2 linked regions of the Homo sapiens genome follow. The protein of the gene in region 1 purifies or fractionates together with the protein of each later gene. This does not show direct contact. Each region holds a gene or a part of one and is shown in the gene's direction. Other genes may lie near its edges.

Region 1 (3,500 bases):
AGTGTTTAAAAATTAGCTGAGATAATGTATGTGAAGGGGTTGACATGAATTAGGGCTCAATGACAGTTAATATTGTTCTTGTATTATCATTGCTTTCATAACACTGTGTTGAATTCCAGACTGAACAGATCATGCCAAGTAAGCTGAGAACCCCCAAAAGAGCAAAGATCACATTGGTTTCATTATTATTGTGTCACAGGTATGTTATGAAGTGCATTGGTAGTCACTAAATAAACACATAATTGAGTGAATTCAAATACAAGCATTCAATAAGTATTTAGTGAAACAAATTCAACGCTTCTTGTAGGCAGCCCCTACCTAGAATGTTCCAGGTTTCTTAGTTTAGCTCACTTTATTCTTGGTATTCTTGGGACTGTTTTGTTGATTACTTCCTAAATTACTTTTTGGTTATGGTGAGTCAGTCCCCAAGCTTTCCTTTCTAAGAAGATTATACAAGCAACAGAAAGAACTTCTTCCTGTAAAGAACTAGAAATGAATAACCACGTGGGCTATTCATTTGTCTGTGTAGTTTCAGTTTCATACTGAATGAAAGCAGTTGCACCAAAGTATTCCCCTGCCTTCTGTGCTTGAACGTATGCCTTTACTTAACAGTGGATATGGGTTAGAAATTAACATGTGAAGAATTTAATTTTCATTTCTTTGCGAATTTATGAAGACTCCTGTTTGGAAAAGGCTTCCCTATTTTTACTGTCAGTCTATACCCCTGTCCTTCTCTTTGACCTCAGAACCTCGATTTGGTATTCATATATCATTAGTTCAGCAAGTATTTTTTTCACCACCTGCCATGTGGCAAGCACTATTTTTATGGTGGTGATGCCACACTAAATCAAAACCCCTGCTTCACAGAACCTAAAGCATAGCATTTATCAATTTGCACTGTAATTGTTTGCTTCTCTGTCTCCTCCCCTGCTAAGTTTCAGCTTCCTGATGGTAGATGCAGTATCTAATCAAACTTTGAGTCTCCCCCTCAATGTGTAGTATATGGTAGACAGTCATACATACGGATAATTATTGTTTACATACAGAGACCCTTCTTCTTATATTGGTGTGAGAAATGGAACTGAGCACCAGAGATCATATTACGCTTGTCCTTGAAACAGTTTGGCACTAGCTGTGTATTCTTTGACTTCCAAAGTGTTAGTTTGAATTTTAATTAGGATCAGCCAGTAAAATGTGGGAGATTTTACATAAGAATCCAGATTCCCAGCTTCTCTTGTAAAAGCCCACATTCCTGTATCACACAATGAGCTGAAGCTGTGGCTGGTCCACCTGTTTCTTGAGATGGGGCATGCCTTCTCCATTTCACTACAACCCCTACCATGCCCTATCATTTTGCACGTGTCGAGGAGGAGCAAGGGGGTGATGTGTGGTGAGGGGAGAATGAAGTGCTTCCGATTCTACATAAATTCACTGAAAGTGTGTGTTCATAAGCTTATAGCAACCTAACTCCCAACATTGGAAATAATAACTTACTTTTTTTCCTTCAGTGATGTGGAATGCTAACAAGCATTTGTTTACATTTGAACTATATATCATATTGAGTCAACAATCAATTTTGTCTGTTGTTTTTCTGCATTTTCACAGTAGGTTTCCTGTATTTCTCAAATTAAATAATTGCCAGCTACATTCTACTGTGATGTGTATCCTAGTCCAAAGTAAAAATATATCTAAATCTATCTGGTTTAGGATTTTTTTTCCTCCTTTTATGATTATTGAACTAACTCTTTTTATTTGTCTTGGTTTTGTCGTTTGAGACTAGAATACTTAAAAACATAAAATTGAATTAAAATTATAGTTTATCCAACTAAATATATTCATGCTTTGTTTCAGTTATCCTTAAAAAGAAGAGGAAGCAAAGATTTGCCAAAATCTGAAAAAAAGGCTCAACAGACTCCCACAGAGGTATGTGGAAATAAAATTTCAACTAGTACACCAAGTACCTCTAAGTGTATATAATCACAAACTACATTTATAAATAGATATAATGGCCAGATAAACTTATGCAAAACAAAGTCAAATTTGCATATCAATTATGTAGCTGTAGATACAGGTAGTATAAATCAGAATATTTACTTATAAAGCCAACCATAACATCCCTATTATAATTGCTTTACATTGTAAGCACACAGAAAAATGTCATTCGTATTTTATACGCTGCTATATTTGAGAACTATACTCATGATGCTAATCTTGTCCTTTTATAATTAATAAGGTCAATAGAAAGGCTGTTCCTATAGTGTCAGGAGAAAGTAAAGAAAGGAATGTTGCAGAGGGAAGTCAGAAAGGAGAGAAAGGCTCATTATATCTTTAGAGAGCCCTGGAATGAAGTAATTCTCCATACCAGTGATTGGAGAAGCAAAAGAAAGGAGACAAAAGAATAAAAATGAAAGTTGAAAGATGTACTCAACATGGGTTTGTTAAAAACCTTAGAAGCACAGCCACAGTAAAGACTAGCTTTGCTTTCAAGGTAAAAAGAGGTGCCAATGGTTGTAATGAAGAAGATTTTAAAATGGAAGAGGAAACATTTGGGATAAAAATGACACTATTGTTAAGGAAGGGGATCCCAATCCAGACCCCAAGAGAGGGTTCTCGGATCTCGTGCAAGAAAAAATTCAGGGCGAGCCCATAGAGTAAAGTGAAAGCAAGTTTATTAGGAAAGTAAAGGAATAAAAGAATGGCTACTCCATAAGCAGAGCAGCCCTGAGGGCTGCTGGTTACCCATTTTATGGTTATTTCTTGATATGCTAAACAAGGGGTGGATTATTCATGCCTCCCCTTTTTAGACCATATAGAGTAACTTCCTGATGTTGTCATGGCATTTGTAAACTGTCATGGCACTGGTGGGATTGTAGCAGTGAAGACGACCAGAGGTCATTCCCGGTTTTGGTGAGTTTTAGCTGGCTTTTTTACTGGAATGCGTTTCATCAGCAAGGTCTTTATGACCTGTATCTTGTGCCAACCTCTTATCTCATCCTGTGACTCAGAATCCTTAACCATCTGGGAATGCAGCCCAGTGGGTTTCAGCCTCATTTTACCCAGCTCCTATTCAAGATGTAGTTGTTCTGGGTCACACGCCTCTGACATTATAACTCTCCAAAAGCACTTGGCTAGATATTAACCTTTAAACTATGTCAGTTGGAATCTATGGTACTGTAGTATACTTTTGTGATTACAAGGTTTTTTTCACATTAGATAGATAATTTAACTAAAGTGATTTTAAATATTCAAAATTTGAAAAAGTTGATCTCAGACATTTTTTAAAGCATAACATATTAACTATATATTATTTTCCTTTTTCCTCTCTGTACCTGCTCTGTTCCTGCTCTGTTTTCTCCTGGTACTTGCACCAGAACATGTATGGACCTCAGCATTTTTAGAATCCCAGAGAGTCTCACAGCCAAGACCATGATATCATTTTTTGTACCTTTCTCTCTGTTCCCTTAGTAAGTCCAAATATACTCTGTCACTACAGCTTTTCC
Region 2 (3,500 bases), on another chromosome or scaffold:
TAATTATCATCTGTAGAAACCTTAGTGTCTCAGATAAGTTGGCTAGTTTTTTGTTTCACATAAAGGAACAAACATTTATAGATTTATATGTATATTAAAAATGGTAAAAATTGGCTGGGTGCAGTGGTTCATGCCTATAATACCAGCACTTTGGGAAGCCGAGGTGGGCGGATTACTTGAGGTAAGGAGCCCAGCCTGACCAACAAGGTGAAACCCCATCCCTACTAAAAATACAAGAATTAGCCGGGGATGGTGGTGGCCACCTGTAATCCCAGCTACTTGGGAGACTGAAGCAGGAAAATCACTTGAACCCAGGAAGCAGAGGTTGCAGTGAGTGAAGATTGTGCCACTGCACTCAAGCCTGGGCAACAGAGCAAGACTCTGTCTCAAAAAACAAAAATGGTAAAAATCTTTAGTTTTTAAGAGGTAAGGATGAAGAGAAGTGGGTTAAAGGATACAAACATACAATTAGAAGGAATACATTCAATGTTTGATAGCAGAGTAGGGTGACTATAGTAAACAAAATGTATTGTACTCAGGAGATGAACACACTAAATACCCTGACTTGATGACTTCTCATATATACTTAACAAAATGTTACATGTACCTCATACATTTATACAAATAGAAAAAAATGCTTAACCTGGCAGATGAAATGTCAAAATCTCAAAGACGGTTTTCTCAGGGTTAGGCCTATTCATTGCACTTCAGGTGTGCTGACCCCTGCAGTTTCCCCAAATATTGGAACTTGACTGCATATTTTGTGGCACTGGCGGACTACATTTATACTGTCCCCTGACATTAAAAAAAAAAATCCTTTATTTTTAACTTTGCCTTCAAAATTAAGTTCAGCATAGATTGTTAAATATAATAATATCCAAATTAAATATATCCAACAATAACTAAGTTAAACAAAAGATAATATTGTGTTTTTATAATCCTGCCAGTAGGATTTGTCATAGTTTATCTTCATTTTTCAAAACAATGTGAATTAAAGATTGCTACAGTGTGTGAACACCTGTTTCTTGAGGATTCAGCTTGTTCTTTGAGTGGGTTATATACTTAAATTTTCACTAATCATGGGAGATTTCTTAAGGCAGCATAAATTAGTAATACTGATACCATACATGTCAATGTACTTCTTATACTAATAGTTTGTATCTTGTAATATTCAGTCAGTAAATGAGCAGCTTGGTAGGGATCATTTACACATTTTCCCAAAAGGGTAGTAGGTGTTTTTCAGGATATTTATATTGAAGGTATAGGAATGGAATCTGGTTGCACATAAATGCACTCCTTAATGTATTGATTATTCATAAGAGAGGAACAAGAAGATAAAGATTGGGCTATAGCATGAGGTCTAGGCGATAGCACAAGTTCTAGACAAATATTCACAATCTTTAAGTTTATCACGTGCTATTGATCTGTCTAGGTATGCTCAAAATGGTCTACACTGAAAAAAAGTATTTAAAAACAAAGCAAAGAAAAATATCTGGGAAGTGGGAAGTGGTTTGGTTCTTGTTCACAGAAGGTAAGCAATAGACAACCTTTTGAAATTAATTGCTGGGGTAGTGTAGGGTGAAGGAGTGGATGCCAAAGAAATAACCAGTACGATCTGTGTCTTAAAGTTGAGAAGATAACACATGAAACAGAACCTTTTATTTATTTATTTATTTATTTATTTATTTTCAAGACAAGGTCTCACTCTGTCACCCAGGCTGGAGTGCAGTGGCACGATCACGGCTCACTGCAGCCCCTACCTCCTGGGCTCAAGCCATCCTCCCACCTCAGCCTCCCAAGTATCTAGGATCACAGGCATGTGCTACCATGCCTGCTTTGTAGAGACAGGACCTTGCTGTGTTGCCCAGGCTGCTCTCAAACCCCTGGCCTCAAGAGATTCACCCACCTCGGCCTCCCAAAGTACCGGGGTTATAAGCGTGAGCCACCACTGCAAGTCTAAGAACAATTTTTTTTTTAATTATATACTGAATTTAGAGAAACTTCAGTAAGTGATAGAATAGTTGATGGAGGAGGTTTCAGGTAGTGAGTGGAGCTGAGTGGAGCCATGAAGCTTGGATATTATTTGACCCTAAGACAGTGCATTTTGGCAGAGAAGTGGTATGGGCAATGACATGAATCTATGTGAGTCCTATGTGTTTAGGTGACACTGAGGTGACTGTCCTGACTGCGTTTCTTGGTGTGTATTGGAGAGAATATTGGGAGAACTAGGACTGTACAGGTGGATTAAAGAGTTTTGAAAACCAGGAAAAGTTTATATTTACAAACTGAAAAGAAAATTTACAGCCAATGTAAAAAAAAACTTTTTTTGAGGTGTAGTCTTGCTCTATCACCCAGGCTAGAATGCAGTGGCACGATATCAACTCACTGCAACCTCTGCCTCCCGGGTTCACGCGATTCTCCTGCCTCAGCCTCCCAGGTAGCTGGGACTACAGGCATGTGCCACCACGCCTGGCTAATTTTTTTGTATTTTTAGTAGAGATGGGGTTTCACCATGCTGGCAGGCTGGTGTCGAACTCCTGACCTCAACTGATCCACCCGCCTCGGCCTCCCAAATTGCTGGGGTTACAGACGTGAGACTCCATGCCCATCCCAATGTATATATTTTTAAATGGAATATTAACATCAGCAGGTTAGTCTGGTATTGGTACATAGAATAGGTTAGGTATGATGGCAAGAGCTAGAACACTTGTGGAGTAATGAGGTATATGCCTCCTTACAAGTATATGTTGGTGCAAAAGTAATTGCAGTTTTTGCCATTCCTAATACTAGCATTCTAAATGTCAAAGGGCATAAATCTAAGGTATTTTAAAGAAAGTAATAACAGGGCTTTGTAAACAGTAAGATTGAAGACAGTAAGCTTAGGGGAAAAGATGTATGGAGAGTCTTAACACTTGAATCAGACTACAACAGTGTATATTTTTCACATAATAGATTTATATTGCATATTGTGGCCTGGAGAAAAAGTTCAGTGCCCTATAAACCAAAATGTCTGATCTCTTAGAATGCCTCATTTCCTAATATGTCCGAAGATGAGTATTTCCTAAATTTGTTTCCAATTTAAATATTTTGAGCACATTTCAACAAATGTCAGAGACTTACAAAATAGGAAAGGATATACCCTAAGAGACTGTAAGCTTCTTGGGGGCTTTTTGACACTAATTTTAGAGTGTTTAGAAACTTTTTAACATTCATTTTTGTAACCCCAGCACAGTGCATAACATTTTGTAAATGTTCATTTTTTGTGGAAAAGTGAATTCAAACTTTTGTTTAAAATTTGCTTTTTATGTGTGGCTAATTCTACGCAGTGAATAAATAAGCTATGCATAAATAACCATGTGTTAACTACAATTTTATAAAGGTTTGTGTGTTTTTTTTCTGGTTGTAGAAAGGTATATTTACTTTTATTGTTCTTTAAAGAGTAATGACCTGTTCATTAGCTTACACCTGTTTTGCAACATTTTAGGCATTGTATGAGAGGA

Evidence for each region. Proteins that work in one complex are often made in the same cells at the same time.
Region 2: the proteins of MTCL3 (region 1) and RIOK2 purify together in Homo sapiens (affinity purification with mass spectrometry; one large-scale study listed by BioGRID and IntAct). This does not show direct contact.

What each region holds. Positions count from the first base shown.
Region 1 is NC_000006.12:127,481,336-127,484,835, reverse strand, and holds part of MTCL3 (microtubule cross-linking factor 3 precursor), read left to right. Parts: intron 1-1,851; coding exon 1,852-1,923; intron 1,924-3,500.
Region 2 is NC_000005.10:97,173,248-97,176,747, reverse strand, and holds part of RIOK2 (serine/threonine-protein kinase RIO2), read left to right. Parts: intron 1-1,432; exon of another isoform or gene 1,433-1,531; intron 1,532-3,484; coding exon 3,485-3,500. UniProt on the Homo sapiens protein: Serine/threonine-protein kinase involved in the final steps of cytoplasmic maturation of the 40S ribosomal subunit. Involved in export of the 40S pre-ribosome particles (pre-40S) from the nucleus to the cytoplasm.